2 separate regions of the Homo sapiens genome follow, and region 2 is linked to region 1. Evidence: fine-mapped QTL for protein levels in blood plasma. A gene starts in region 1. The other region holds a variant in brackets. All regions are shown on one strand. Distances are from middle to middle. Region 1 holds the start of SERPINI1 (serpin family I member 1). Region 2 overlaps SERPINI1 (serpin family I member 1).

The links. A credible set is the group of variants that fine-mapping cannot tell apart. PIP is the posterior inclusion probability: the model's chance that the variant is causal. Protein levels are from antibody-based Olink assays in UK Biobank. Linkage for the fine-mapping came from a reference panel and not from the study's own genotypes, which makes the PIPs less certain.
Region 2: its variant is the best candidate, but not a certain one, in a credible set for the plasma level of the SERPINI1 protein (UK Biobank, PIP 0.58).

Annotation. Positions count from the first base shown.
Region 1 is chr3:167,724,486-167,740,448 of GRCh38, forward strand. It overlaps SERPINI1 (serpin family I member 1), which reads left to right and starts at 11,236. Exons shown (of 9, transcript NM_001122752.2): 1 at 11,236-11,338. It overlaps PDCD10 (programmed cell death 10), which reads right to left and starts at 10,407. Exons shown (of 9, transcript NM_007217.4): 1 at 10,177-10,407; 2 at 9,729-9,865. RefSeq lists a silencer at 10,039-10,168 and an enhancer at 10,219-10,658.
Region 2 is chr3:167,743,155-167,759,117 of GRCh38, forward strand. The region is part of intron 1 of SERPINI1 (serpin family I member 1); the gene reads left to right. Among named protein-coding and RNA genes, the nearest start is that of SERPINI1, 15 kb to the left of the region's middle. RefSeq lists an enhancer at 7,335-7,454. The variant G/A (reference allele first, on the strand shown) is at 3,570.

The DNA.
Region 1 (15,963 bases):
AGAATCCTGTGTTTATGTTCCCATTTATAAGTGTGTTTCTTCTTCCCAATAGAGACATTACAGTCAGCATAGCGGGCACATAACAGACACTTAATGTTTGCTGAATGACCAAATTCATGAGTTGAGATGGGCAATTTATAAATTGAATCAGTCTTGCTAATATACTTTTCAAATAGCATGCCTAGCAAAATAAAAACAAACACAAAAATCAAATTAATTCTATTAACAAAGCCTGGACCCAGCCACATTATCACTGGAACCAAAATTCAGTGATAATAAGACTTCATTATTGTTATCAGCTATACTTTCCAAAGTAATCTAATAGGAATTTCTTTAAGACAAATTTTTCTTTAAGCATCAAATCATTAAAAATTATTTACAAATTCTAATTAAGGAGGTCCTCCCCAAGAGTTGGTTAACCCAGGATTTCAATTAACTGACAATTCCTTGCTTTCTCTCAATAATATAACACAGAGAATCATACTCATCAGCTGGGCACGGTGGCTCATGCCTGTAATCCCAGCACTTTGGGAGGCCAAGGCAGGTGGATCACTTGAGGTCAGGAGTTCAAGACCAGCCTGGCTAATATGGTGAAACCCCATCTCTACTAAAAATACATAAACTAGCCAGATGCGGTGGTGGGCTTCTGTAGTCCCAGCTACTCAGGAGGCTGAGGCAAGGGAATTGCTTGGACCTGGAAGGCGGAAGTTGCAGTGAGTCGAGATCGTGCCACTGCACTCCAGCCTGGGCAACAGAGCGAGACTCTGTCTCAAAAAAGAAAAAAAAAAAAAAAAAAAAAAAAATCACTCATCAAACTCTTAGAGAAAATGGATTTTTACAAAGACTGTATAGATGGTAGTCTGGCCATTTAACAAAGCGGGGTGGGGTTAACATTTGCTGACACAGTTTACGTACCTTTTTAGGGCTTTCTCATGCCAAAATGCTGTTAGTCACTTCCAAACAAGAGACCAAGATTTAGAGGAGAAAGCTAGGAAAAAGGGAGGCAGAGGAATAGGGTAAGTCAGTGATCCTACTTAGAGTAAAATGAGCTTGATGTCTTAAGGATATACCTACATCTCTCTCCTTGACTTGCAAATTACATCTTCTATAATTCAATGTCTTCCATTTCCAGTTTTCTTAATAAAGTTAAGTGGAACCTAACCTCCCTGAACATACACTACTGTCAGTTTAGTACTTACAGAATTTTACACTTAGGGACATCTAGAAGCAATCTCTTGTTAATGGTAAGTGTATATAGCACTTTACCATTGTATCGTTTATATATATATATATATATATATATATATATATATATATATATATATATGCTTTAAAAATATTAAATGGACAATTTGTGCAGAAAGATACAGGGAAAAAGCATAAGCATTTAAAGTCTCAAAGCATGGGCTCAAATTCTGGTCCTGTCATTCATAAACTATCTTTGTCTCTGAACAAGTCATTTCACCTCTCTATCCTTTGGTTTCTTCTTTAATATGTCTGACAACTCTAGGGTACTTAGCAGCACAAGCTTGTGGATCTTCAACTTGGTGCTGCTGAGACTTCCAGCTCATCTTAAAAGTTAACTGCACCATGTCAAGTGTATGCACTTACATATTTTGTAGAGTACTGTTTTTTTTTTTTTTTTTTTTTTTTGAGACAGAGTTTCACTCTGTCACCCAGGCTGGGGTGCAGTGGCGTACCTCCACCCAGGTTCAAGCGATTCCCCTTCCTCAGCCTCTCGAGTACTGGGATTATAGGCACCTGCCACCACGCCTGGCTATTTTGTATTTTTAGTAGAGATGGGGGTTTCACCATGTTGGTCAGTTTGGTTTCAAACTCCTGACCTCAGGTGATCCACCCGCCTCAGCCTCCCAAAGTGCTGGGATTACAGGCGTGAGCCACTGTGCCTGGCCAGAGTACTGTTTCTTAATACAGAAATTTATAAAATGGGTAAGAAGTAACTTTTTCTACACATAGATAGACAGTATACAGCAGGAGATAGTGCTCAGTTTGGAAGGAAAAAAACCTCAGTTTGAATTTTTGCTCAGCTGGATGCTATCATTTCAGTTTTGTAAATCTCTATTTCTAAACTAGTGAGAAACAGAAATACTGAAGTACTCACTTCCCCAGATTAAGAGTACTAACTGCATATAAAATAGTTACTACAGTGGCTAACACATAATAACCATTCTATTCATATTGTTATTAATATTTTAGCCAAAATTCTAGGAACCTGACATGGAATCGATTGCAACTAGGGTGAGGCAAACCAGATGCCTAGAACACAAAATTTTGCTCTGATTTGCATGACTGAGAGAGTTAGTGCTTCTTCAAAGTTTGTACCCTAGGCATATCTCTTGCCTCACCCTAGTCCTGCCCCTGCATAACATACACAATGAGAGTCAAACACTGATATCACAATGTCATAAAGGCCACCTACATAGCATATTTTCAAAACCTTTTATCTCCCATTTGCCAAAATGGATGCATAAATACACTTAGTTTTGGCTTACATAAAAGAATTTGGCCATCAGGTGCATTTTAAAACTTTTTGCCAAACCAATGTTAAAATTACTTTTCTAAATGTACATAGATAAACTTAACAAAGGAAACCATGGCCCAGAAGCAGGCTGGGTAGCAGGCTGGGTTGCACACTGAAATCAAGATGTGATCAAAGCCCTTGAGATAATTCATAAAAGGTTTATAATCTGTACAAGATAATCAAAAGTTGACAACAAAATTAAAGAGCTCATTACCTCAGAATTAGCTGATGGGAAATGGAAACAGTAACAAAATAGTAACAATTGGCTCCTACGATATTTCAAAGCAACTTGTTCAGGGGGAAAAACATACATCTCTTTAGTTGTGACAATCCTCATTTTTTTTTCCTATGTCTAAATTTTTGGTAAATTCTGATCTGAGTAAAATTTAAATGAAAACACTTGTTGGAAGACAGGAAACAAATCTGTCCCCTTGAATATGTTCATCTTTTGCCCATAAAGTTCTCAACCTAATGGTTCATGAATAATGCCTAGTTGAATAGTTGTTTGGTGTTTAATTGAGGTACATGTCTATTTTCCTTTTTATTAGTATTATTCCTTGTCTTAGTTTCTCCAATACGATGTTAATTAAAGCTTTCCTTTAAAATCCCTTAGAAATTCAACTAAACTTAATTCCTCAGAGTGTTAGGTCCTCTCTGCTTAAAGGTACAATTAAAAGAATCTGTACCACCCTGGATCAGAGCTACTTGCTTTGTATCACTTATAATCTTAGATACCTAGAATTTAACTTAATGACTCCTAATGGCTTAAGATCCTCTAAAACATGCAACAGGTACTTTCATTACTTTACACAATTTCTTTGCACCAAAAACACTGCCACAGGGCACTCAAATGTTGACAGAAACTATTAGCCCCAGACAATAAATAGCCTCTGCCTTATTTAACATTAGGTGCTAATGAGGCCAAGGTTCTATCTTGATGATGACATTTAACTTTACCTTTAGCTCCCAATTGATCTCAAATACAAATACTATTTCTTACAAGAAGAAATTAGGGCTAGGATAGTATCTGTTTTTACTGCATCTACTGTTCCTCCTGTAACCTTCACTTCGCAAAAGTGTGATTTATTTTTTAAGGGAGCATACCAAAAATAAGGTAGAACCTTGGAAATCTCTCAAATTTTGACAGTACTGCATAAATACCGATTTTAATATGGATAAAGACATAGAGAAAGATGTGCAGTTCTCAATAAAAAAAAAAAAAGGATTCCAAATGCTTTGGAATTAAATGAAAAAAAGCCTAGCAACAATCTAAACTCGTATAGGGTGCAGTTGCTGTCTAGAGGCCAGGTCTGACTCATTTAACATTCCCAACTGGCTTCTGTTGTAGTAACCTTATATAAGTCTGAGGAGGCAGCCGGTGTGTAACATCTTAGGGTTTTGTCATTCCATAACTTCAATCTCAGTTGAATTCCAGTCTATCTTGAAGTAAGAGAGAATGACTGAATAAGACAGGGAGACCCATTTCAGTGCCAGGGACCAGATGGCAGTTAGAGAAACAATCATTTATTTTTCTATCAGCTCTAACCTAAAATTGTAAAATGAACTGATGCACATGGAAGTACTTAGTATATTAGAAAGACTAAATGTCCATACAATGGTCTTTCAACCCTTTCCCCTTGTATCTACTGAAGTATAAACTCCCTAAAGAGAAGTTGTATCCATTTCTCTATTTCCTAGTATCCAACACAGTATTCTGCATAGTCAGTCTAAGTCAGCAACAGTGTTAGTTGGAGATATGGTGATGAAAAGTCAAACAGCACATACCCTTGAAGGTATGTAGTCTTGGCAGGGAAGAGAGACAGTAAAGAAATACAGTGACATGTCACACTGCCACTTGGCATTAACACTCCAGGGAGCGTACCTGCTTCACATGATACTCCTACCCTATGCAAGTTCAACAGACATGGTGAACATTTGTTTGAAGAAAACAAACAAAAAAATAACTTCACTAAAAATAACTACTGCAGTATGTGATAATTCCATTCCCTATGCAAAAGTCCCAGAATGAGACAGATAAGAAACGTGGATCTGCCACTCCCCACACCAGACTGAGAGCCACAGTGAGCTCTCACAAAGAGTAGCTTGCCACACTGATTGTGACTCTTGTATTATAATATACATATTTCTTTTTTCAATATGGTCTCTGCATAACAAGTCAAACACTTCACCTGGTACTCAAAAGAAATCTACTCCAATGCTAGAAAAAAACTGGCTGTGTTGAAGTTGTTAGTCTACAACGTGTATTTCCTAATAGGTTTTTTAAAAAGTTTGAATATTAAGTAATTTCTGCCTGCCACACTGACCTTAGCATTTAAGACATAACTGCTCTGTAACTACAACTCTTAATGCTAATTTCTCTCTCCAATGCAGTTCAATCACTAACATCATTTTTACTATAATGATGAAAAACATGGTCTCTTGAGTCAGCCAGCCTGGATTCAAATCCTAATTCCAAGCAATTTTTCCTGCAACCGTAGGCAAGTTCCTTAACCTCTCTGTACTTTAGTTTCCTCATTTAAAAACTGGAGATAATAGTGCCTCTACCTCGAAGGGTTGTCGTAAGGATTATAAGAGATCCTGTAAAATGCTTATTAGCATGAGACTTGGCACTTAGTTACTTAATACTCAATAAATGCTAGCTATTATATTAGGTTCCAGTTCATTCCAAAGAAGGTTTAAGGCAATTTCACAAGTAATATGCATTCAATAAGTAAATGAATCAAAAAGTCATTATTTAGACTAACCTCTGGTAAACTTATTCCCAAGGGACCAGCCTAAGTATATGTTAGTGACTACCACTTAACATGTTCCACTGCTGTTACCCAATAGTTCATAAGCTTGTTAATAAAATTCTTTTCTTTTTCTTTTAACCCTATAGGCAACCTGGATTCTATCAACTGTATAAGAATGAAACTGAACAGCAGAAAATCACTTTTGGGTGATTTTAAAAATGGTTATACATAACCAAAAATGTAAGGGTGAGCTTGAAAAATAAGTGTAATATAATACACTTAAGACACATTTAAATTTTGTAGCTTAAATGACAAAATTGAAATTACCATCTTCATACAGACAAAAATGAACCATCAAACCACAGTGTTTATCTTTCAGCACATAAATTATTTCTAATTGCTATAATAAATGTGCTTTCATTTTTTGCATTGTGTGTGTGTGTGTGTCCCTAAAGCATAACCCTCTAACACTGCAGCTTACTATAATATTTCAAATGCAATAACATAGATAACAATGACATTTAACTTCTAAATCACTTTTACAGTTTATATTATGGAAAAAATTACTTATCATGTAAGTGGCTTAAAATTCTTAGTAACACCTATCATAATGATATTAATTATCCAACAACATATAAAAAGCAGTATTTCAGTTTTATCCTCCACATACTGGTTATGCTAGGTAAATATGAAAATTTTATCCAAGATTCAAGTAACATCAACACTGACTTTTTAAAAAGTAAGTTTAGGATTTAGCAAAGACTTGTTTTTAATAATAAAATGGATAGTATTACCAAATTTTAAAGCCAAATTATCAGCAATCTCTTTTTGACAAGATCTTGTGGAAGAGTAAACTGGTAAATCCATGAAGGCATACAAGGCTACAGAAACTCAGGGCTGTTGACCTTACTCTATGCCATACCGTGGTACTACAAATGACTGCAGAACTTGTTTCCAAGACCAAAACCTAACACAATTTATCCCTAAAATTCAGTTTGTATGTTTTAAAAATAATCTTTTTATGCTTAAGTCTCCAGCTATAAAGCAAATAAGATTAGAAAAGTATTAGAAAAATTTTCAGGAAACCCAAAATATAAGTTCCTTTGAAACAAAAACTACTCAATTTTACAAAGCCACCTTGTCTAAATCAAGTGATATTAAAGGTATAATTCATAGGAAGATAGCAAGGTTAAAAAGCAAGAAACAAAACAAAAAAGCAAAGAAAAAGAAAAAATTATGGATTCTAGAATACGGAGATAGATCCAGATTCTAACCATGGTTCCAGTACCAACGTTCTGGAAACTCTAGCAATTTAATTAAACTTTTTTTAGTTTAATAAGTAAATTTACTTATTTTCTTGATGTCTTCAGCTATAAAACAGTATTAATACTACTACCTAGAGGAAATAAAGGTTTTTAGGGCAAAACGAGACAACATTAGGGAAGAAGAGTCCATTAGAAGTTTCTTCCATGTCTATATTTTGTTATAATGAATATCGCTTGCAAAAAGCAGGACAGTGATAAGTCTCTAAAATGCTGTGTTACACAGCAATTCTGCGGCAAATGAAAGTGATTCCTTTATCATTTCCACTTAGAAAATTAATCCTGATTTCAGAGACCTCCAAAAAGAACAAACATTTTTCCACAATTTATATTAAAATTCTGTCAATGACTCCTTTACATATAACCTAAATTGCCTAAGCATTATGGCTCATTTGAAAGTTCTTATATACTTCAATCCAGAAAGCATATCCGCTTTATTCATTTCTCTATTTCTGTCCCCAGAGAAGTGCTGGAAGCACTGTGCATGAATACACTCCTTCATTCATTCAGCAAATATTTACTGAACCCTTACAATGTGCCAGGTACTGCGTAAGTAGTGGGGTAAAACATGACAAATGAGAGGGCCCTGCTCAGGGAGCTTATAGTCCAGTGAGGAGACAGTATTTGTCAAATAAATACAGAAATAATTAAGTTTCTATTATGATGATGCCACAAAGGAGTACAGAGTATGGTGAATACATGGCGGAAACCTATTCTGATTTTGGGAAGGCGGGCAAGGCTCCCCTGACGAACGATATTTAAATTGAGACGTGAAAACTGACTACCAGGTGGCCACATTTAGGTAGGCGTGAGGGGAACAGTCCAAGGAGTGAGACGGAATATGTAAAGGCCACCAAGTCAGGAAGCAGCTTATGTATGTAGTAACTGAAAGGCATGGTAAATGAGAAAGGCTGGAGATAAGGACGGAGAGCTGGATAGGAGAAGAGATAAATTTTTAGTGTTAAACAGAGTAAGAAGGTAATAGTATTTGAATATTTAAGTCACGTTAAGTCTTCTTCTCATGTAAATAATCTAAGGGAACTAAGTCTTTACTCCAAAATATTAAAGATCTGTAGTCAGAAGATCTCGATTTTGTCTTACTCCCACCAGTTACAAGTCACTTAACCAACTTGAGCCTCTTCATTCTCTTTGTAAATATTATCTTACCTACTCAGACTACAATAATAAACAGCCCCTATTCTTACAGACCTTACATCCTTAAGAGAAACAGACAGATGTATAATATACGGAAGACATCCCAAGTCCTCTAAGAAATAATGTCCAAAAGCTGACATAAGGCTCCTGCAAAGTTCAAAATGAGAAGAAATGCAGACACTGGTGAGCTGCAAACCACGTGTACACATAACTCTGTGAACTCCTAATTATCCAACGTGCAGAGATCTAAAGTGACAACAGTACCGCAGCATGTGACTGAAAGATGATAACAACAATACAAACATTAATCCACCATCCGAATAGAAGAAATATCAAAACTATAATTGGCCTCAGAGATAAAGAGTAGTGGCAGAAATGAACCAAGAACAAAATCTAAAACACACTGAACAAATGCATTACATTAACTAATTTCCAAAATTTCCTCATAGTTCAAAAGCTCTTTCCATAATGACAGAGTTACATGCCAAAGGTTAGAACTTATTTCATACCTCCTTCAACAAAAGGCAAATACCTACATTGTCATCTAGAAAACAGATTAATATTCTTGCTTTACCATCACTGACTCATGTTCAGTTTACGGTCTACTTACATCACTGCACCTTTCTTAATCCAGCACAAAGTCAGTTATCACCACATAATTTTCCATTTGTTTAACTGGGTCTTCCTTGTCTGTGTACTACATTACTTATGGTACATTATTCCTGATTTTACTTCATTCTATAGTATCATACTTTTTCTATTTTAAAAATCGTATTAATTTCCAGACCATCTTAATTTCAACCATCAGGGAAGATAATACCTCTGTTCCGAAAAAATGTTTTTCCATTAAAAAGTGAAGCACATTGTTGATAATATAGTAACTGCAGAGTACATTCAAAATTCAGCATAGTCTGATGATCAACTTATATATAAAACAGTAAGCTATGATTTATTACATGTTAAGAGTAAGCCATGATTTATTACATGCTAACCTGTATGGATATAAAGTTATCACAAATAAATTCTGCCATCAATGAACATACTCTAACAATTCTATTAAAAACTTATCCAATAATAATAGTCATGAGCTATAACTGGTCATAATCATTATAGAGGATAAGACTTGCATAAAGGCACTACTTTCTGCAAGATATGAACTATACGTGTACTGTTTTTTCATTCTTCAATGTAAAGTAAGAATGAATTGAAAGTCACAGTTGATGCTAAGAAAAATAAAAATATGCAAGAGCCCAATTTTATTATTTGCAGACACACACACAAATACAGCCCAGAGTCAAGAAAATGGGGGAAAAGTAAAGTCTCAAAAAAGACGATGTTACCTCCAAGAAATGCAAAATACCTTCTTTTCTAGTAATGGGCACACTAAACTCTCCTAACGCTACATTATTTGAAAAAAGTGTAGTTTTGTGAAAGAATTCCAATCCCACTATTATCAGTTTTACAAAATGAGAGTAAAAACAGTCCTAAGGTAGAAAAAGAAAAGAATATTCTTCTAAGGATGGGATATATTGTTTAACTGTTGTTCTCCCATCCTATTACCTACCCGTAAAAATGAACTGTGAGAGTAGAGTCTATCATTTAATACACCCCTAAAAAAAGGGGAAAAATCTGTAAAAGTTGAAACTGGCCATTTTTATTTTTTCCAAAAGGATCTTTCCTTTATTGAGGAATTTCACTCCGGTTCAAGAAACAACTTTTTATCTCACAATGGCTTCTTAGATATACTATATAAAATACATTTACTTTGTAACTTCCTCCACCCTTTTCAAAAAGCACAACCAACGTCCCTACTCTAAAGCTGGACTCGAACCGAACTAGATTCAGAAAGTCTGTCCCTACGTGTGTGACCTTGGGCACGTCATATAATCCCTCGGTTTCCTCATCAGCATCCCAAAATGAAAGCGCTCTGAAAGCAGTAAAGGAGTAAAAACATACCTTAGGTATGACACCTAAGAGGGTCAAGTCTTTCTGTTTAAGGCAAAATTATCTCCTTAGAGGGCCACATCATTAAACTGGAACTGAATCCGTAGACCCCAACATTTGTCTCTTCCTTCTTCCAGTGCTCCTCTTCCCTCAAAGGGCATAACCCGAGTCACCCCCAAGAGCCGACTCCCAAGCACCCTTTCCTTCCTCCTCCCTTTTCTCTTACTTACAAAGCAGGGGGAAAACAGCAGCCTCACCTCTCGGTCCGAAGCCACACCTTCAAAGGACCCCACCCCAGGCACATCCGCCCTGTCCCCTCTCCCGGGGCACCAGGGGCCAACCTCGCCCTTCCCCTCCCGCCCCCACCTAGAGGAGACTTCCTGGAGGCGTTCGGGCCCAAGCCGGCAGGCGGCATTTACAAACCCGCTTTACGCCACTCGCGTAGGGTAACCTCGCTTACGCCCGTAGGGCCCCGCTCTCAGCCCCGTCCGCTCCGCCTGCCAGAACCAAGCCCAAGTGCCTCAGCCATGGCCCCTGCGTGACCCTAGACCTCTTCTGCTCGGTGCAGAGCTACGGGGACTGGGACAGAACAGCTACACCTTACCAGCAACTGAGGCACTGACTTCACTTCCCACCTTGCAGCCCTCTTCAACTCCCGGATCAATTCACTCCGGCGACGCCGGAAGGACCCAAGAGGAACCAGGCGTTGTCCGGAATCCTGCCCAGCCGGAGTCGTGCAGAGGCTTATGGGGACTCGTAGTCCCGCTCGCCGGCGTTGTCCGCAATTCCTGCAATCGGAAGACTACACTTCCCGGCAGGCCATGCGGGGGATCCTGAGGCGATGGGTGGTGACACTTCTAGCCAATAGTAGGAGAATTCCCTGCCTTTGCGGGAGGAGGTGAGATGAAGAGAGATGGTGCACGGAAAGGAGAGGAAGGGCGGGGCAAGCCCTCACCTGCGCCAATCAGGGTGCGGAGTAGGCCCCGCAGGCGCCTCACCCATTGAGGGGGCGGGCTGACAGAGCAGAGGAAGGAAGGGGGTGAGGGGCCTGTGGTGGGGATCCTGGGGCTGTCGGGCTGAGTATGCCGTGTGGGTGGAGAGGAAGCCTCGGGGAAATCGCCCAGGTGAAGGGAGGGCTTGGTGTGGGGACTTGCACTGGGCAGAGGGGCAGCTTCCCTGAGAGCAGCTAAGCCCCAGGCACACCGGGCATCCGGACACACAGGTCGGGGAAGGATAGGCTGAGCCGGGGCTCCCAGCAGAGACGCCTGGGTGGGGCAGGAGGCCGCTCCAGGTGTGAGCCACAGAGGAGGGGAGAGGGACCCCCACGGGAGTGGAAGTGGCAGAGCAGCTGCAGAAGTGCAGGGAGCGGAAAGGTACCAGGGCAGCTGCTTTCCGCTGCCTCCGGTCCGGGCAGCTGCAGAAACAGCAGGGGGAGGAGCAACAGCTGCCAAATTCGCCAACTAGAGGAGGGAGAGGCGGAGCTTGGGTCCCTGTAGAAGCCAGAGGCGCAGTCTGGACTGTAGTTTCCCGGGAGAGACGAAAGCAGGAACGAGAGCGGAGCGGAGCACAGTCCGCCGAGCACAAGCTCCAGCATCCCGTCAGGGGTTGCAGGTGTGTGGGAGGTAAGCGTGGGTCCTTCTTCGGGGCGTCTGCACTGCCCTGGAGAAAACGTCTTCCAATAGGAATTACATCAAGACACAGCTAAAAGAGTCCGCGTTGGGTTAGGAAACCGGTGCAAAACCTCTCGGGTGAAAGATTTACATTTTTCGACTTTAAGGGCAAAAAAGCAAAAGGAAGCTTGACTCTGGGTATAAAGGGCGTGGTTAGTGTTTTTGGTTTGAGTTGCACCAGTAAAACTGTTCTGGGAGATCTGAAGATTGAGAAAAATCCTGCTAATTGAGGACGAGGTGGATGTTATCTGGTGGATGTTATAGGTGCGTAGCCTATAAAAAGCAAAAATTTTGCTATTGATATAGAATAACTTCTGAACTATTTCACTAGGAAAATAACTTTGCATTCTTCTTCAGTGTCTACCCTTTACGTTGGTTTATCAGATTGTCCTGCTACCGACCTGTTATCCAGGGTGGTTATTTTGCAGTTTCCTAGAATTGCAAGAAATCCGTATTAAAGAAGCAAGTGCAGGCAGGAATAGTCAGGATAGGATGGGCTCTGACTTAATCTATCAAAAGTATAACTTTTGCCAGCAATAATGTAAAAATGAATTTTAATGAATGGATAGTTAGCTTTCTTCCCAGTGGCTCTGGAATATTGGAACAAAGACCTGGATTCAGCCTACAATGGAAACATATGGTGTACCTCACTGCTGCTCGTTAGTTTCTCATTTGTGTCCGATAATATGTGTACATTTTAAAAACGAGTACATGGAAAGCTGTGTGGGAATCTTTTCTCTGGGTAGAGAGTATGTGCTGAAGGACTACCCTTAATATGTGTTATGATAGTGGGTTCAGTTTAAAACACATGTAGTGTCATAAAATAATAGTTTATTCTCGGTATTAAACTATATGTGCATTCAAAGCAACGTTAATTGTAATACCTATGGATGGAAATAAGTTGTAATGCTGGGTAAAGATGAAAGTCTCACCTACCTTTGTGTAATTATGACAAAATTACAGCCTTTTATTTTTAGAGAAGTAGTAAGAAGCTATTTTCCTAGTTCATTTTCATTTTGTTACAGAGGTTCCCAGATTACATGGCTTTTAATCATAGTAGCATATTGCAGCAAATTTTGCTCTGAAATGCTTTCATTGTGACAGTTGCATATTTCAGAGTCTGTCTCAATACTTTATGTTTTTTTTTAATAACCAGGGTCAATAAAATGGAGTAATTGTCTTGTTTTCTCCTATTTCTATGCTTTCCTGAGTTCTCGGGATTTTAAATTTTATTTTTGTAATGCATCCCAAATTTCTTTTTGAAAAGAAATGGCTCAAATGAATTCTCTTCCCAGATTAAAGTTCAGTCCTACTGAGTGCTACTACCGATAAGCCTAAGTGACTTTTCAGTGTGTATACTCTTCCCTCCCACACTCTCACATACCATAGAAATATATAGACAGATAGATCATAGAAAAACAGCTGCTTTTTAATTACCCCTAAGCAAATCAGCTAAGTATCAAAAACAGCAAAGAGCTTAGAAGAAAGAAAAAGCAACAGTAGCTGCTAAACTTAACCACTATAAGGATCAGGTTTTATCTTTGCTACAGCACTGGAGAATCTATTAATTCACATAGCTGATATGGCCCTGTGAAAATGATTTTGGGGGTAAAAAAAAAAGTGGGTATTAGGGTGACACATGGAAAAGACTGTGTTTGCCCTTGTTATTTGTGATTAAGTGGATTGTCTTGAATCAGTCTTAGATTCTTTCTCAGACCCTACTACTAATTCATTTTGTAAAACTGAATAATTGCTGTCGCTGGGTTATTTCCCCTATGTAATAATTATAATACTACCAATGAAATTCTTTCCGAGCCTTTATTAAAAGATCTGTTTGAAAGAGTTTTATTGGGAAACAGTTAATAAGCAAGCAAATGGATAGAAGATAAATATCTAAACAGTTGAAATTAAGATATACTTTGAATCTCAGCTCTTTATAGGTCTTCTGCTCTGAGACACGGTAAAGGATAGAATCTGATTAGGAATGAATGAGTTTGTGGTATTAAAGTACTGATTTTTTTCACCTGTTTCCAAGATTTGGATCCTTTTTACTGTGTCAGTAAAAGAGATTGGGTTTCAATATCATTTGAAAAAAGACCATGTTTTTATATGAGAGAATATCATTGGAAATATATGGCATTTATTTTTTACCTTGCACTCTTGATTCATGTTAGTTAATATTCACATTCAATCTCAGGTAATCTGAAGATTTTTCTTGATTGGTGTTGAAAACGTTCGTTATATGGCAGTTTATAATTCTGTGTAAAATGCTACCCATGTTATAAGCATATTACTTATTTTGCTCTTTAATTTTACTATTTGTGTATGGCTATCAGTGAATATGTATGATGAGAAAGGAAAAGCAACAGAGTGCAGAATGTCTCTCTTGAATGGAAATTGCTCTGGGGATGATTGTTCTTTAGCCAAAAACCTTGGTTAATTTCAAATTACCATATCCTTTGGTCTTTTCTTTAGAGTTCTGATTCTAAGCCTTTTGAGTAAAAATAAGTTAGCATGGATTTCTTTTTAACAGGAAGATTCACTGATGCATGCAGCACAAAAGAGCAAGACTTAAAGGTTCAAGATCAAATGGTTTTGGTAAAGAAGGATACAGGGGAATAGATATAAAGAAAACTACTTGAGAAACACACCTTTAGCAAAAGAGAAAAAAGATTTTATATTTTTTGTTAAATTCCTATAATCCATGATTCCATGACCTTTTCTCCCCCAGTCATTAATTTGTAGAGGCCTGTATTCATACTGGGATACATTACTTTTCTAAGTAAAATTGAATATTCAAAATCCAATGAATACCAGTCTGATTCCAGTTAAAATGGCAATTTTTACTGGAATAAATTTTGGATGATTAACCTTCCTTTTTTATGCTTTTATAACCCATAAATATTCAAAATCTAATGAATACCAGTCTGATTCCAGTCAATTGCCATTTTAACTGGAATCAAACTGGTATTCATTAGATTTTGAATATTCATGGATTATTAACCATAAAAATCCTACCTGTATACACTAACTTCTAAGTGAAACATTATTTGGACAAAATATCAAAAAGTAAATACCTAAACTGATGTTTTGCCCCTTTAAAATAATAAAGGTACTTGAACCAGACACTAAGATGAGCAAGAGCCCATTTATTTAATTAAGCAAATTCCAAAGGTTAAACACTGCTTTTGGGATCAGAATTAACGTACACAAATAAGGGAGAGATTTTTTTGTTGTTTCTTTTTTTTTTTTTTTTTTAAATCTTAAACCTGTAAGAATTTAGTCTTTAAAATTTGGAAGGTGTGTTTTAAGTAACTACGTTATTAACTCTTAGAGACCATGTACTTCTTTTCTATCTCCTGTTAGTCCTGAGCACTTTATGTCATATTCAGCATAAAGAAATTGAGTAACCAGTTACTGAATTAGAACCATTGGACATTGGACAATACTTCTGTAATGCACACATTGAGACAGTTTGCGCTTTGATAGACAGAGTCAGCTGACCTCACAGAATGATTGCTTACACATTAGTCCTTCTGAGAATGTCTTTATGCTAGTTTGCCTTTGCAAAAGTGTTGATTGAGCACAATTGGATTCACACTGTGTGCGCTGCAAATACATTACAGATTTGAGTGCCAGCATTTCTAAATTCATCTCAGAGATAGGATATATAGGCGAGGGTAAAGGAGTCTGCAACTGGTGGCACTTAAGGTCTTAATTTCACAGACAGAAAAACCCAGGGCTCAACCACCATTTAACCTCAAGGCCCTGGAGTTATACCTTTGTTGAAGCTTATCTGTAGAAACCATATTTCATTCTATAAAAACTGAATTTGCTCTTCTGTTTTTCTAATTATTTCTTCCAAAAAAAAAATAGACTGATTTTGTTTAAGCATGTGTGGAGTTGGTCATTAGTTGTTTTTTGCATTTGACCTAGAAACAAATTAATCTGATTGGTGTTAGAATTAAGAATCTAATGTAATTTTTACTTCATTATGATAAGACCTATACAATTCTAGTTAATTGTATATAGTTTTTTAGTAGTAAAATTAATTGTAGCACATATTTAACTATCTTCTGTTTACTTTTACCTTCATGTTGATTTATATAAATTGGCTTGCTTAGAACTGATAATTAACCTGCCTTTTTCTTTTTTTTTTTGCCGCCTTTTTTTTTTTCTGAGACAGGGTCTGACTCTGTCGCCCAGGCTGGAATGCAGTGACCTGATCATAGTTCACTGTAACCTTGAACTCCTGGGCTCAAGCACTCCTCACACCGCAGACTCCCCAGTAGCTAAGACTACAGGCAAGAACCACCATGCTCAGCTAATTTTAACTTTTTATAGAGATAAGGGTCTCACTGTGTTGCCCAGGTTGGTCCAAACTCCTGACCTCAAACAATTCTCTCACCTTGGTCTCCCAAAGAATTGGGATTACAGGTGTGAACCACCATGCCTTGCTGATATTATTCTTAATGATTAGCACTGTGCCTTGTGTAGAGTAAACTTAGTTCATACTATCTTTCTCACCAGATACTTAGTATCTTTAGAGCTAACTCTGAGTTTCATTGACGTTTGTA
Region 2 (15,963 bases), 19 kb after region 1:
GATTTCTTTTATGAAGATTTTCTTAGCTGCCTGAAAAAGCAAAATAAGCCATTATTCCCTAGAGGAGAGCCTACTCTAAAAATTTATTACCCTAGAAAATGGTGTTATTATCCATTTCAAAAATGTGAAAAATATGAACATCTATAGAGTGATTATTACCTAAATTATGACTCATTCATACAGTGACACTTTGATACTCATGGTTTTGGTGAATTATGATTCCTTGAGGTAGGAAAGTCTGAGAAGAAAATTGAAATTGAGAAAATGTAAATAAGTACATTAATTTTTTTCTCTGCCTATAAAACTCTCATAATCAAAGATACTGACTTGGCAAAATTGTAGTTGTCTTTGCATTTCTATATCAACATTTTTACTGCCTGATTTTTACATTTCTATCATGTTACCCTAGGTGAATGGCTTTATCGGGATAAAGCTTTCCAGATAAGAGTCACGTGTAAATTTCTAAACTCTTCTACAAACAATCTCTAGTGTGAGTTTGGATTCTATAGGGGAATATAACAAAATATATAAAATTACTGTCTGGCATAATCTTTTGTCAATATAGTTAATAAAAGAAGGCATTGGAAGACACATTTACATTACAACAAGGATATATGACTTAAGGCTATGATATTACAGCAGTTACTATTGTAGAAAGCCAGAAGGAGAAGAAATTGGTCTATGTGGTAATCAGGAAAGGCTTTAAGGAAGAATTAGGGCAGCTGGTATGTTGGTTAATTGCAGGGGATGGCAAGCTAGGGCCTACAGTCACACTACCTTGTTTTATAAATAAAGTTTTATTGTAACACAACCATGCCCATTCATTTACATCTTATTAAGGCTGCCTTCTCGGTACAACAGCAGAGTTGAGTCATTGCAATGAAGACGTGAACCACAAGACTAAAGTATTTCCTATCTGGCCCTTTTAAAAAAATTTGTCAAACACTGGTTAAGAATGTCAGCTCTACAGTCAGACAAAACTGAGTTCAAATTTTTGTTCCATAATCATTAGCTATATGATATTCAGTATGTTACTTAATCTCTCTAAACTTTGGTTTTGTGATATGTAACTTTACTCAAAGGTTGTTTATGTTGACATAATGAGATTTTACACAGAGTGCATTACACAGTAACTGGCGTGTAGTAAATGCTCATTAAATGTTATTTTATTAAACGTTAGGTTTTATTTTATGATAATTTATTTTGTAAGTGAACTATAACTTTTTTTACTCAAATAGGGATTTGAAGCTCTCATTTTAACTCCTCTTCAAACTGCTAAAATAATGTTCAGGACACTAGGAAGGGTATCATCTAATTGTGAGAAATTTAGAAGAGTTGCACAGAATATTGTACTAGGACAGTAAGATTAAGAGCCAAATGACCTAAGTGTATGGAAAAAGTAATGCTACACTTTAAAATATAGTTAATATTTTAACTATATTGTTATTTTTTATATATATAACTATATTTAAATATTTTATATTTATATATAAATATATATAAATATAAAAATATATATATAAATATATATATAAACATATATAAATATATATAAAATATATATAAATATATAAATATATATATTATATATAACTATATTTATATATTAAATATATATTATATATAACTATGGTTATATATATATATAATATATAAATATAGTTATATATATAATATATATATTATATATAACTATAGTTATATATATATATAAATATATATATATCAACTGAATAGCTTATTGAGTATTGAAGGGTGCCAAGCCAGTCAGTTTTTTATAAGTTAAGATACTTTCTCAGAATTTAGAAGAAAATTATATTTAAGGGTAGGGGAACCTAATATAGTAAAGAGGAGACATCACTACCAATCTTACATAAATAAAAGTATTGTTGGAGAACACTATGAACAATTGTATGGCAAAAGATTAGATAACCTAGATGAAGTGAACAAATTGCTAGAAAGACACAAACTACTGAGACCAACTTAAGAAATAGAAAATTCAAATATAGACTCAAAAATGCTCAACAAAATACTAGCAACCAAATCTGGCAACAAAAGAATTATATACCATGATCCAGTAAGTTTTATTCCAGGAATAAAGGTTGGTTTAACATGAAAATCAATTAGCATTACATACTATATCAATGAAATAAAAGACACATAATTATCTCAATTGAAGAAGAAAAATATTTGGCAAAACACACTTTCATGATAAAAACATTTAACAAACTAGGAGTAAAAAGAAACTTCCTCCACGGGGTAAGTACATCTACAGAAAACATAAATAATTTTTTTAAAAAACATAGCTAACATTTGGTAGTGAAAGTCTGAATATTTCCCTTTAAGATCAGGAATAAGTCAAGGATGTCAGCTCTCACACTTTTATTCAACACTGTATTGAAGGTTCTAGCCAGGGAAATTAGGCAAGAAAAATAAAAAGCTCCCATACTAGAAAGGAAGAAATAAATTTCTATTCACATATGAATTGGTCTTGTATATAGAAAATCCTAAAGAATCCACATGAAAAACTATTAGAACTAATAAACAGGTTCACCAAGGTTGCAGGATAGAAGATCGATATAAAGAAACTAATTGTATTTTTATACACTAACAGTGAATATCCAAAATCAAAATTTTAAGATCCACTTAAAACAGCATAAAAAGGAAATAAAATACCAAGGAATGAATTTAACAAAAATGCAAGAATTTTACAACAAAAACACCAAATGATGTACAAAACATCACAAAGAAATTAAAGAAGACCTAAGTAAATTGAAAAGTATCTCATGTTCATGAGTTGAAAGACTTAATATTGTTGGGATGGCAGTATTCTCCAAATTAATATGCAGATTTAATGAATCAAAATGTCAGCCACTTTTTTTGCAGCAATTGACAAGTTGAACTTAGGACTCACATAGAAATGCAAGGAACCCAGATGTATGTGTCAGTGGAACAGAATTCAGAGTCAGGAAATAATTCTTTACATTTTCAGTCAATTGATTTTCAACAGGGTGCTGAGACAGTTTAATGGGGAAGGATATTTAACACATGATACCGAGGCAACTGGATATCTACATGGAAAAAAATAAAATTGGGCTCTACCTCACACCATATACAGAAGTGTTACTTAAAATGGATTACAGGCCTAAATGTAAGAGCTATAACTATAAAACTTAAAACAGGAGTAAATTATTACCATGCATTATACAGTAGTTTCTTAGATATGACACCAAAAGTACAAGAGACATAATAAAAACAAATTGGACTTCATCAAACTTAAAACTTTTGTGTTTCAAAGGACACGAGTTGAAAAGATAAGCCATATAATGGGAGAAAATATTTGCAAATCAGGCATTTGAGAAGAACCTTATATGCAGAGCTCATAAATAACTTATAATTCAACAATTTAAAACAATGCAATTAAAAGTAGGCAAAGGATATGAATAGACATTTCTTCCTCCAAACAAGATGTAAAAATCCAGGAAGCATATGAATAAATACAGAGCATTATTAGACACTAGGGAAATGCAAATCAAAACCACAGTGAGCTACTACTTCACACAAACTAG[G/A]ATGACTAAAGTCAAAGAGACAGACACCTGTAACAATAAAAAGTACTGGTGAGGATGTGGGAATATTTGAACCCTCATAATATTTTTTGAAACTCATAAGGTTTTGGTGAGATTGTAAATGATGCTGTCACTTTGGAAAACAGTTTAGCCATTCTTCAAAATATTAGCCACAGAGTTAGCCTATGACCCAGCAGTTCCACTGTAGGTATATGCCGAAAAGAGTTGAAAAAATGTTTGTCTACACAAAAACATCCACAGGTGTTCATAACAGCATTATTCATAAAAGTGGAAACAATCCAATGTTTGTCAGTTAATGAATGGATAAACACAATGTTGTATAGCCATCCAGTGGAATATTATTTGACGATTAAAAGGAATGAGGTACTGATACTACAGCATGGATGGCCCTTGAAAGCATATTAAGCAAAAACACCAAACACAGCAGGCCACATTTTATGTGAAATATCTAGAATAGGCAAATCCATAAAGACACAAAGTAGATTACTAGTAAGGGACAAAGGGGAATAGGAAGTGACTGCAAATAGTTATGGGGTTTCTTTCTGGGGTGATGAAATGGTCTAAAATTAGATCTTGGTGATGGCTGCACAGCTTGATGAACTTCTTAAAAACCACTAGATTGGCCGGGCACGGTGGCTCAAGCCTGTAATCCCAGCACTTTGGGAGGCCGAGGCAGGCGGATCACGAGGTCAGGAGATCGAAACCATCCTGGCTAACACGGTGAAACTCTGTTTCTACTGAAAATACAGAAAATTAGCTGGGCGTGGCAGCGGGCGCCTGTGGTTCCAGCTACTCGAGAGGCTGAGGCAGGAGAATGGCGTGAACCCGGGAGGCGGAACTTGCAGTGAGCCGAGATCTTGCCACTGCACTCCAGCCTGGGCGACAGAGCGAGACTACGTCTCAAAACAACAACAACAACAACAAAACACTAGATTATACACCTTAAAAGGGTACATTTTATGATATGCGAACTATATTTTAATAAACCTGCTTTTTAAGTGAATATAATATTTAAAACTTTTAAAAATAGGAGTTATGGAAGATAGAATTATGAGGAACCCAGACTAGCAGATAAAAAGTAATGTAGAATAAAAAATTCATTCTACATCACTTGGCCTCACAGAACACCATGAAAAATTAGTGAAGAGAAACTAAGACCTACCCACACTTTGTTAAAGTTTTTTTGTGTTTTGTTGTTTTTTTTTTAATTTCAAAATGAAGGCAAGGAAAAAGCCTAAGCAACTTTAAGCAGATAAAAATAAAGGAGGCGGAAATATCAGCTTATCTTAATACTTCTTTATATCTTATTTTTCACTCAGAAAATATAATACTTAGGAACAAAAAAGTGTGATCAAAACAAAAAGAAAAAACTAGAACTTTAAGATAGAATGACAAATACTAAACAAATATATTGCAGTTATCAACAGCTTTAGTCCATTAGTGAAACACAAAATCCATCATACTGGATAGAAAAAAAAAGTCAAACTATTTAATATTTAAAAGACAGGAAGTTAAGCAAAAGAATACTAGTTTAAAGTAAAAGGATGATGAAGCAATAAATAGACAAAAATAAGTTTTAAAATGTAAGGCAGCTATATTTGTATAAGACAAGGCAGAATTCGAGGCAAAACCTTTAAGGTCAAGGAAGGTAATTTATATTGATAAAGGTGTAATGCATAGTGAAGACTGAATAGCCATGAGCCTATTTATGTCAGTCACATAGAACTAACGTCGCTAAACCAGTCTGAAAAAGAACTGTAAACATGGCCTTTGGTGCCAGATCTTGATTCAAGAGGGAAAAAGTAAATAGTCATGCAACATTAAAAATAAGGAAGGGATAAAAATGGACTTTGGAAGAAATGGAGATGACAACGTCTCAGAGGTGGTAGCATTGATGATGCGGATTTGAGGGAATTTGAGTATGAAATCAACTAGTTTTGTCCCTGAATTAGCTCAGGGATTACAAAATAGGTCAGCAGTCAGCACACAGGTAAGACAGAGTGTGTTACTCTGTGTGTGTGTGTGTGTGTGTGTGTGTGTGTGTGTGTGTGTTAACTGTATCTAAATACCAGTTCTCCACAATGAGTACCATGCTCTGTTGTCTTACACTGAGCTCTTTTTGGTCATTTTCCCAGCCTCCCTGGCCTCTGTAGGCATTTGGGTTTGTTACCACTAGTTTGGGATACGGGAGAAACTGATGAAGAGGAGTAAGTTTTGAGTCAAGCAGCAGGAAAAGAAAGAATAATTGTAATAATTCAAAATGTAACCGTTGTAAATGAGCTGAAAACGTAAAGCATTTAAATCTTTACAAGGATTATATTTATGTACATTCAGTTTGCTTCATGTTATTAAAAATTACTCACTGAGATATTGATATATCACTATTTTGAAATTATCCCCTTGCTTTTATGATTAAGGAAGTCAACTTTCATTAAAATACTGAATCTCATTTCCTCTCTTCTGTGTCTTAAATTTTTGTTTGTGTTTTTTTGCTCTAGTTTACTCTCATACAATGTTCCTTTTATGTCTTACCTTACCCTAATGGGAACATTTTATTTTTTGGTTTGACTCCTTCTCAACATCCACAAAACATATGAAGACATCTATGCTTTTTACCATCATTAAAACATAATGTTCAGCTAGCTGCCTGGCATGAATAATCCATCACTGAGGACCATTAACCATACATGACAAGCTACAGTACAGTAATTGCTATCTTTATACAAGACAATTGTGACTATAAGGCTGATGACTTAAAACCATAAACCCAGTCTCACTTTAAATCTAATAGTGCACCAACTGATATTTTAAGTAGTGTTCTCTTTTCTTCTTTTTAGAATGACTTATAAATGAGAAACTTTAACAGGAATATCTCATTTATTAAAAGGATCCAGAATTTCCACTGTAACACACCTTAGAATGCAGGAAATAAGCTTACAAACCCAGCCAAATTCCTTGCTGTGAAATTCACCTTATTTATCCATTAGCCTTTATGCAGAACCTGTTTACTGTTAATAAACTGTTTAATTTACTATTGAATGCTGTTTATATGTTTAGACAAATTAACAGTGACTCAATATAAACAAAAGATGAGAGGGGAAAAAAGCTAAGAAACTAAGAAAGCATAGGTGCCGGAAGGGTTCATGTCTTGACCTCAGAGAAGTGCAGAGACATAAGCTGTGGGGCAGTATGTAGTGCTCAGTAGATACTGGCTGGGTGAATGAAGGACAGAGCCAGAAAGTTTTAAAAAATGACCTTCAGGCATAAGAAAGAGGATTAATTGTTACATTTCCACTTTTCTGGAAAAACTAAGTGAATTATATATTTTGTTAAAGTTTCATGCAAATGGGTAAAATAAAAATAAATTTCGGTGCTTAAAAAGTAAATTCACAGCTATTGATAAAACACCCAGCCGGGATGACTTATTTTCAGAGAAATTAAAGAAACCAAAGCTTTGCTTTTTTTTCTGGATGTCACTACATGTATATGTTACCCAAATATCTAAAATGACAGCACTGAAATGTCTGTTTCAGAAATGTGCATATGAAATGATTAATTACACATTATGTAACATATCTTCTTCCCAGGTTGAATTTAGCAAGCTCTATGAGAAATATTTTTTCAGCCATGCAGTGTAGCTTGGGAAAGTAAGAACAAGATGACTGCACATAGAAATTAATGAAATAGAAAAGGCAACATGGAGCAATGGGTTTGCCATCACGTGTTCGTGATGCTTATTTGTGTATCATGTGAAGGCTATTATTAGTATGTGAAGAGAAAGTGAAAGGTTTACAGGAGGCAGTGGGTGTTGTCTAGAAGGAAATCCAGAACTGCTTCACTGTTTCTGAGACTGAACTTTTTACTGTGACCTAAGCACTAATATCTTTACATCCATACATTATCACCCTTAATTTTTATGACAATCGTATGAGACAAGTACTATCATAATTCTCATTTCATAGATGAGGAAAGTGGGGCATAGAAAATCATATAGGTTATTTCAGGTATCACCACACAGTACCTAGTTTGCATTTGTTTCCAGCCAAAACATAGTTCTGCAATATAATTATGATCTCAGAAGTAACCAGAATACTTTGTGTATTTCTATGGAATTGTCCATATTTACTTCACAGTATTTGTATATTGTACCTTGCATTCTTCAACTATGAATTCTCTTGCATTCTTAAAAAATTAGACAGCTGCAATTACATATCTAAACCCTATAAAAATAATAAAATCAATATATAAAAACTCTAACTTCAGACAAAAACTAGAGAATGTTTCATGATAATATTAAAAAAAGAATAGAAAATCCACGGCAAGCTTACTTTAAATTAGGCATTTCAAACTGGCAGTTTGACAGACTGAAATCTTTCTGTCTCACCTCCTGCCAGCTAAATTATGTTTTGCAGAGTTTATTATGTTAGGAAAAAAAAGATTTTCTTTAGGTAAGGAATATCCTCTTCAGTTACCGCAGACTCCTCTATTCTCCATTATACTGGACCAATTCACACATTTATATTATCTGCTAAGAAACTGCAGACTTCTGAGTTTGTCAGAACTTTCAATCATGAGCACCTTGGTAAATTTAAAATATGCTATTGAATTATTAACATAGTTTTTGGAATATGTCTACTTGATAAAATGAGGTAGCCCTGTAATTACACAAAGTAAGTCAAACTGTATCAGAATAGTTTTTCAAAGCTTAGTCTCTATAAGCAAAGATTAAATTATTAAGCAGTCAACCGTATCTGTTAACTTCCTTTAAATGTTTTCTCCACATGGAAAGGAATAGGAAATAAGAGATTTTTCTTAAGCCAGATGAAAAATTTGAGATGTGTTAAATTACTCCGCTAAATATATAGATTTATCAGAGAATAGTGTTGAGGTTATCGACACAAATGGTGATGGGTTGTCAATGGCATTTTCAGGCTGTCAACTCAACTGTCAGGATGAAACTAATTGGTACATCATATGCAGCGTTATGTATGATTTGTTCTAATATCTTTTCCAGTACGGTATCTAGTATCTTTTTCATGTACGATAATAAAGCCTCCAATATTAGTGATTCTCCTTCATGTGTGAAGTGACATTTTAAAACTGTATACTGTCCCACAATATAAATGGATTTTGTTTCAAATTGTGTTGTATGAAATTAAACTTTGTGAAATTGCCAACATTTGACTATTTTTGACCTACCAAAAAAAGGTAATTTATATGGTTCAACCTAATACAATAGTTATGCCAAATGGGGAAAATGTTTTTCAAGAGAAACTGAAATACAGGTTTGTTTTGAGATTAGTAATAAACATGCATTGTGTTCCTGCTTTCTGCCAGACCCTGAGCTCTCAAGGAAGGTCATTTTCTCTCTTCATCCTCCTAAGTCTTGCATGTGTTTGGGTTTCCCAGAGCTTGGCCATAGGGCACCTCTTCTCCACACTCCCCAAAAACTCTAATCCAAATGTGCTCATAACTCCTAAATGTATCTCTAACCCAGACCTACACTCTGAACTCTGACCTTATTTATCTAACTACTTTCTTAACTCTCCAAGTGGATGTCTCATGGGCACCTCAGATTTACCTATCCAAAGCAAAATTCATGATCCCCTATCTCACCCCTCTCTGCTTTTGTTCCAGCCTTCTCCATCTTAATGAAGGACAGCTCCACCTACCTACCCAGCTGGCTGAGTTTAAACCTGGGAGTAATCCTGACTCGCCCTTCCTTACTGTTACCTCTGTCTTGTCCAATTTATTTTTTAAATAAGTCTATCCATAATCTAACTATCCCTTTTCTATCTTCATTGCAACCCCCATAGTCAACTATCTTCTCTCACCTGGATTGTTACAATAACCACCCAATTTCTTCTTCAGCTTCTGCTTGAGACTCCCCATACTCTCTCCTGTATAACTTTATAAATTATACTGTGTTTAGGAGAAAATGCAACATCCTTGCTGCTTACAAGGGCCTAGATAACCTAGCCCCTACCTCATAAGCCAGCCTCTTCTTTTCCTTTGTTCATTGTATTATTTCAGTTCTTTAATCACAGAGCTCTTTTCTGCCATCAGGCCTTCATATTATTCCCTCTGTCTGGAATACTGCTTCCCTCCTTAACTCTTATTTATCCTCATGTCTCAACTTAAATAACACTTGCTTAGAGAGGCCTTCCCTGATTCTCTCCTTAATCTAAAATAGGTCCCTGTTATTCTTTTATGTGACACACTATTACTTTTTATTCATTGCACTTAACACAGTTTTCAACTAGGTGCTTTAATGCATGTGTGTTCGTTTAATGTAAGCTCTGTGAAGGCAGAGCCCTTGTCTGCTGCTTTCACCTCCATGTCCAGGGCCCAGTACACAGTGGATGCTCTCTGCTTGAAATGAAAAGTATAGTCTATATTGGATGTCGATGCTTGAGGAAAGCCAGATGTTCAGAGGAGGATGTGAGGGGCTTTTGGAAATGTGGTATGGTTTCAAATCCCATCTTTGTTTTGGGTGACTTTTCTGAGCCCCTAGATTGTAAGCTTTCTCAAAGCAGTTATTTTGTCTATTTTGTGTAGAGGGCACTGCTCTATTCCCAGTGCCCAGAAAAGTGCTTGATAATTAGGGATGTTCAATAAATATTTGTTGAGTAAATGAACTGTTTCCTCTTTCACAAAGTTCCTTTCTCATGAAACTATAAGGGTGGTAAATAAAGAAAATATAGGAAGCATCTAATGTATAGCAGGTACTCAATAATGCCAGAAACCCTAGTGGGTTTTTCAAAACATAATTCTCACATTTTTTACAAGAGTGATTCTCAGAGGCCTTGGGACCCTATGAAGATTGGGGGTGGGGAGCAGTGAGGTGGGTATCTTAAACTTACCCCTGTGGCCTTTTTTCAAACTACCTAAACTTATACTTCATGTCCAGTGCCTACTACAGACTGGCTATTTTTCATGAAGAATATATCATATTCCTCAGGTGTGCTAAAGCAAAGATTAAGGAAAATATGTCTAAATCTTGCCTAGAACCAATGTCACAAGAATAATAGCTAATAAAGGAGAACTGTATATCAGAAGACTATCAGTGTTGTTAGGCTAAAGAATGTATATTAAAAAAGGAACTGTGAAATAATTATATAGTGATGCTACTGTCTCTCTTCTGGTAAGAAATATCAGAATGTGTGCTTGATAGAGTGTCTCTCTGGATATATTACCTTGGATTCAATTTTAAAGGCATTTGCTAGCCCTTAATGTTTTTTAAAAGGGGGAGAGGAGTAGATTTCTTATTCTCCAAAATCATGTATTAACCTTACTTCAAGCTGCTTTTTCAAGGGAAATATTTATACTCCCAGTAACTGGTTGGAAGAGATGCAGTTATGCCACATTTACCTTTGTTTTATCCAGTTTAAGAATTTGTGAGCTCTGTATTCATTTTTATACTGGTTAATTAGGCATGAAATCCAGGAGGGATAAAGGAATAAAGGTCAGAATCACCACAGGCTGTCACAAATCCCAGAAATAGGGGAAGTGAAAATTCACCAACCAATTGAACCACACATTACACACAGCTAGACCCTGGGCTACAGAGATGCATCTTCAGCAACTGGAATAGATGAAAGTGTCTCTTAAAGCCCTCCATTGATCTATAATTGTAAAATGTTTACAAGCATTTTGATTGTATACAACAAAAATAAGCAACTTTAAGTGTCCTACTTCTGTGGCACATACATTTTCATAATTTACAGATTCTATTATCTGTGCTTTCTTTAGTATATGTACACTGTTCAAATTTGAATATTCTAAATGTCAACAAAGAATAACATTAATGTTTATGACTTGGCCATAAGGAAATCCACAGTGCAAAATCTGAATTTTCACGTCCTTGGAACATACTGGAAGTGTCACTAATCAGATAAATCCACTAGAAGAAAAACTTCTGTTAGAGGTATAATCCAGAAGGGAAGTTGATTGAATACAACTGCATTATTTGGTTATAGCAGAACTGCCACACTATAGGATTTCCAGATTCATCCAGGTAAATCCTTTCATTTTCTTCCACTTCAGGAGTTCTCAATCTTTGCTGGTCTGCGTGTCCACCATGGAGTTCAGGTTCAAGCTATTTTTGTCCATGTCCTACCCAACCCTGAGTAGGTGCTTGCTTCTTGGATCCCTGCTAGCACTTTTTCATTCCCTATTAACTGACCACCTAGTTGGCCTCCTCTTCCTTCTTTCTTTCTTTCCTGCTGTTCACAGATATCTTTGATAGCTCCTTCCTGCAGCCTCATGCAGCTCAATGAACTGTTCTGCTGTCTGATCAAAACATTCATTCAACAAATCCCATTCCTTCTTGACTTTTATTCCAGTCTTTCAACAATCCTACCAGGTTACTGGGCCATAGCTCTCATTGTAAGCATTAAGATATAACTCCACAACTACATTTTTTTAAGTTTAGCTGTATGGGAAAGAATCATGCATATTAATCCATGACCTATTTCAGGATGGTAGTTTGGAAGCACTTCCTAATTAAGAAACTCTGAAAGAAAGCACATGGCATTATCACGATCACTCCAAATGGACCTCCTTTTAAAGTCATTTCAGATTTCACCAGCAGTGCACATTCACTCCTGATTTGGAGTAGGCAAGTGACCAAGGATACTGGTAGATTCAATATTTTAAAAGGAACTTACTGGTAAAAATAAGTTCTTGTTTCAAGGAAATAGATGATGGTCTTATAGTACTTCAAAAGGGCCCATTAAGATAGAGCTATACTTTGTAAAAATATTTGTTATTTTAGGTTAAGCAATTCAGAGAGAGGAAACCATAAGAAGGCTGTGGTTGGTACTGGAACCTTGTAAAATGAAGATCAAAATCACTGACTGTTCATACTTGAAATTACAATAAATGTAAAATGTGACCTTGGTATTATGGCATAGTCTTTTAAAAATGTCTTTGTTTTCATTTGTTTTTCACTTTCTTCTGTAATCTCTCAGATTCTGGTACTACTGAAATAGTTTAGCTTTGTAAACCTAAAGCCTATATTATTAGCTATTAAAACAAGTAGGTGTTGCTGATTTTTTTTTTTTTTTTTTTTTGGCTGTGGTCCGTCCTGCAGACCCCAGCTGCATGACGGATGAATAACGTACTCAGACACTGATATTCAGTGAAAGAGTTGGCTAGGGGACCAGGCCGCTGACTGAAAGAGATGTAGCAGCCATGACCCTGACTAGCTGGCTCCTCCGACATTTATTCAGCACACATTAAATGACAAAGGCTTTGAGTCAGCACCACTAGAGGCTAATTAACCTGGTCACTCTCCCCACCCCCTGACCCCTGCCCCCAACCCCAGAGAGCCATCCTGCCCACGAATGATCAAAGGTTAGTTTTAGGACCACATGAGTAAACAAGTTATTTAGATAAACTCCTCTACATTCCTAGGTATCCATGCCCTATGCTTTTAAGATAATTCAGCTGCTTTCAGTCAAACACTTTACTGAAGCTATGTAAACCCCCAGGCCTTCCAAGAAGTTTTGTGTTTATTTCCCATAATTTTACAATTTCTCCCACCATCCTGACCCAACCCCCACATTTTTTGAGACAATGTCTCACTCTGCTTGCCCAGGCTAGAGTACAGTGGTGTGATCTCAGCTCACTGCAGCCTTGACCTCCCAGGCTCAGGTCATCCTCCCATCTCAGCCTCCCAAGTAGCTGGGACTACAGGCATGCACCACCACATTCATCTTTGTTTTTGTTTTTGTTTTTGTTTTTTAGTAGAGATAGAGTTTCACCATGTTACTCAGGCTGGTCTTGAACTCCCCTACTCAAGTGATCCACCCACCTCAGCCTCCCAAAGTGCTGGAATTACAGGCATAAGCCGCAACACCCAGCCCTAAAATTGCTTTTGTAATTAAACTTCCAAATAAACATGTCTAGCCATTAGTTAAAAGATAAGTCATCTTTTTTTTTGAAAAATATATATAAGCATATGCCCCTTGTAATGACTATGGCAGTCATGCCATAAAAGCAATTTCTAGTCCACCACTGCAGTTATTTAGATTAGCTATTTGATTTCCATTAATCCAAAGAAGACCAGAACATCTAAGTATCTACAATATGCAACCAACTTTCTGCTTCAGACTTTATAAATAATGTATTCTGCGTCTCAGCTGACTCTTCGTTATGTCACAAGTCTAAGCCACCATGTAAAAAATAGACTTAGTGACTCTATGTAAATGAGGTTTTCTGCCTGTAGGGAATCAATTCTGTGAAATTCAGTGAGTAATAAAACAGCTACAAAGGATTTATTAAAGAGAGAAAAGTGCATCTATTACTGATTAGGATATTTTTAGGGAAAGGCACATTGAACAGCAACCTTTAAATAATCAAGTTAGTTAATCACAGTATCAAATGACTTTAGTGCTGGAAGGAATCTGAAAGATCAAAGACCAACCCTCCTGTTTTACTGATGAAGCCTAGAGCTTTTTCTAAGACCAGCTTTTGAAAGGACCTCACACTAAACTGCAAGGTCACTGAAGGCAGTGTATAATGGTTGCTTATATCCGTGGTGTTTGTGCAGTGCTTGGGATGTATTAAACACTGAAAATACGAATTTGCATGATGAATTAATAAATGATTTTATAAACAAACATGAGTAAAGGAATTAATATGATCTCCTTGGTGTTACATAGGAATTTCTGTTATACAAATCATAATGAACGTTAATGTTACCTGTTTTCAAAAAGTATTCTCGTTTTTAAAGGAGCCTCAATTAGTGAGATCTCTCTCTCTCTCACACACACACACACACACACAAAATATATATTACACTATTAGATATAGTCATTGAACTTGTAATCATACTCCGTGTTGGCCTCTGTATATTCAAATGAACCAGGGATATAAATGTTCCTAACTGTGGCTGGGTGTGGTGGCTCATGCCTATAATCCTAGCACTTCGGGAGGTTGAGGCAGGCAGATCACTTGAGTTCAGGGGTTTGAGACCAGCCTGACTAACATGGCAAAATCCCATCTCTAATACAAATACAAAAATTAGCTGAGCTTGGTGGCCTGCGCCTGTAATCCCAGCTACTCGGGAGGCTGAGGCAGAAGAATCACTTGAACCCAGGAGGCGGAGATTGCAGTGAGCCGAGATCACGCCACTACACTCCAGCTGGGGCAACAAAGTGAGACTCCATCTCAAAAAATAAAGAAAAATATAAATGTTCCTAAATGTTCTTCTTGACAATTGTCAGAAAACCAAATCTCCAGCCAGAGTATAAATGTCAGGGGTATTCAGCATTCTGATTTATGTAACACAAATCCCTATGCAACAGACAGGAAGTAATATTAATTCCTTTACACGGATTCATATTTTGAATGTCTCCGTATCTTTCTAAGTCTTTTGTCTTCATTCTGGACCTGCAGGTGTGTGGATCCGGTGCCCTGTGTCCCCTGATACCCCACACATTTTTTCTTGTCTAAGCTTACATTTTAATCAAGCTACATTTTTAAAGAGGTATTTCTTTGGATGGATTGATTTTTAACAAGACATTGATCTATGTGAGTTGGACCATCTAAAAAGTCCATAACAAATCTGGGACAATTTGAAAAATAAGTAATGATAGCAATGTATTATAGCCCGTAGAATAAAATAAATACCTATGAGTCTCTACTGACACAAAAAATAATTTCGATACATAAGTAAATGGGAGCAAAGGGACAGCTATTTCTTATAGTAGAATTCCAATTGATGAATGTAGAAAGAATGATGGAAATAGAAAAATCACAGTGTGTCAAATATGGCATTAATCATTGTTGCAGATAATCATTAACAGATTAAAATTAGTGTTCAAAGATATGATGAGTAACAGGATATTTGTATAACCTTAAAGTATCCAACCACATGACACTTTTTCACAGATTGGAGGAGACTAAGGACATGTGGCAACTCAATGCAATATGGGATCCTAGATAAAATCCAGGGTCAGAAAAAGATCATTATTGAAAAAATTTAAACGAGGTCTATAGATTACTCAATAACATTGTATCAGTGTTAATTTCCTGGTTTTGATGATTATGCATTAGCTATAAGTGAGATATTAACATTTAGAGAAACTGAATGAAGGATATATGGGAACTCTACTTTTTTTCAACTTCTTTGTAAGTCTAAATTTATTTCAAAATTAAAATTTAAAATGTTTTAAAAATAAATACAAAGGTTATAACACTCTCTTATATTTGAGTGGCTCTTTATAAAAGAAGCTTAAGAGATACAGATGTTTTTATGATCCACATTAGACACAGGAAATAGATTCCAGTTGTTTCAGTGACTTGCCCAAGGCCACTCATTATAGAGCCAGGTGTTCTGTTAGATTCCATTTTCCTCTCTACAGAAACT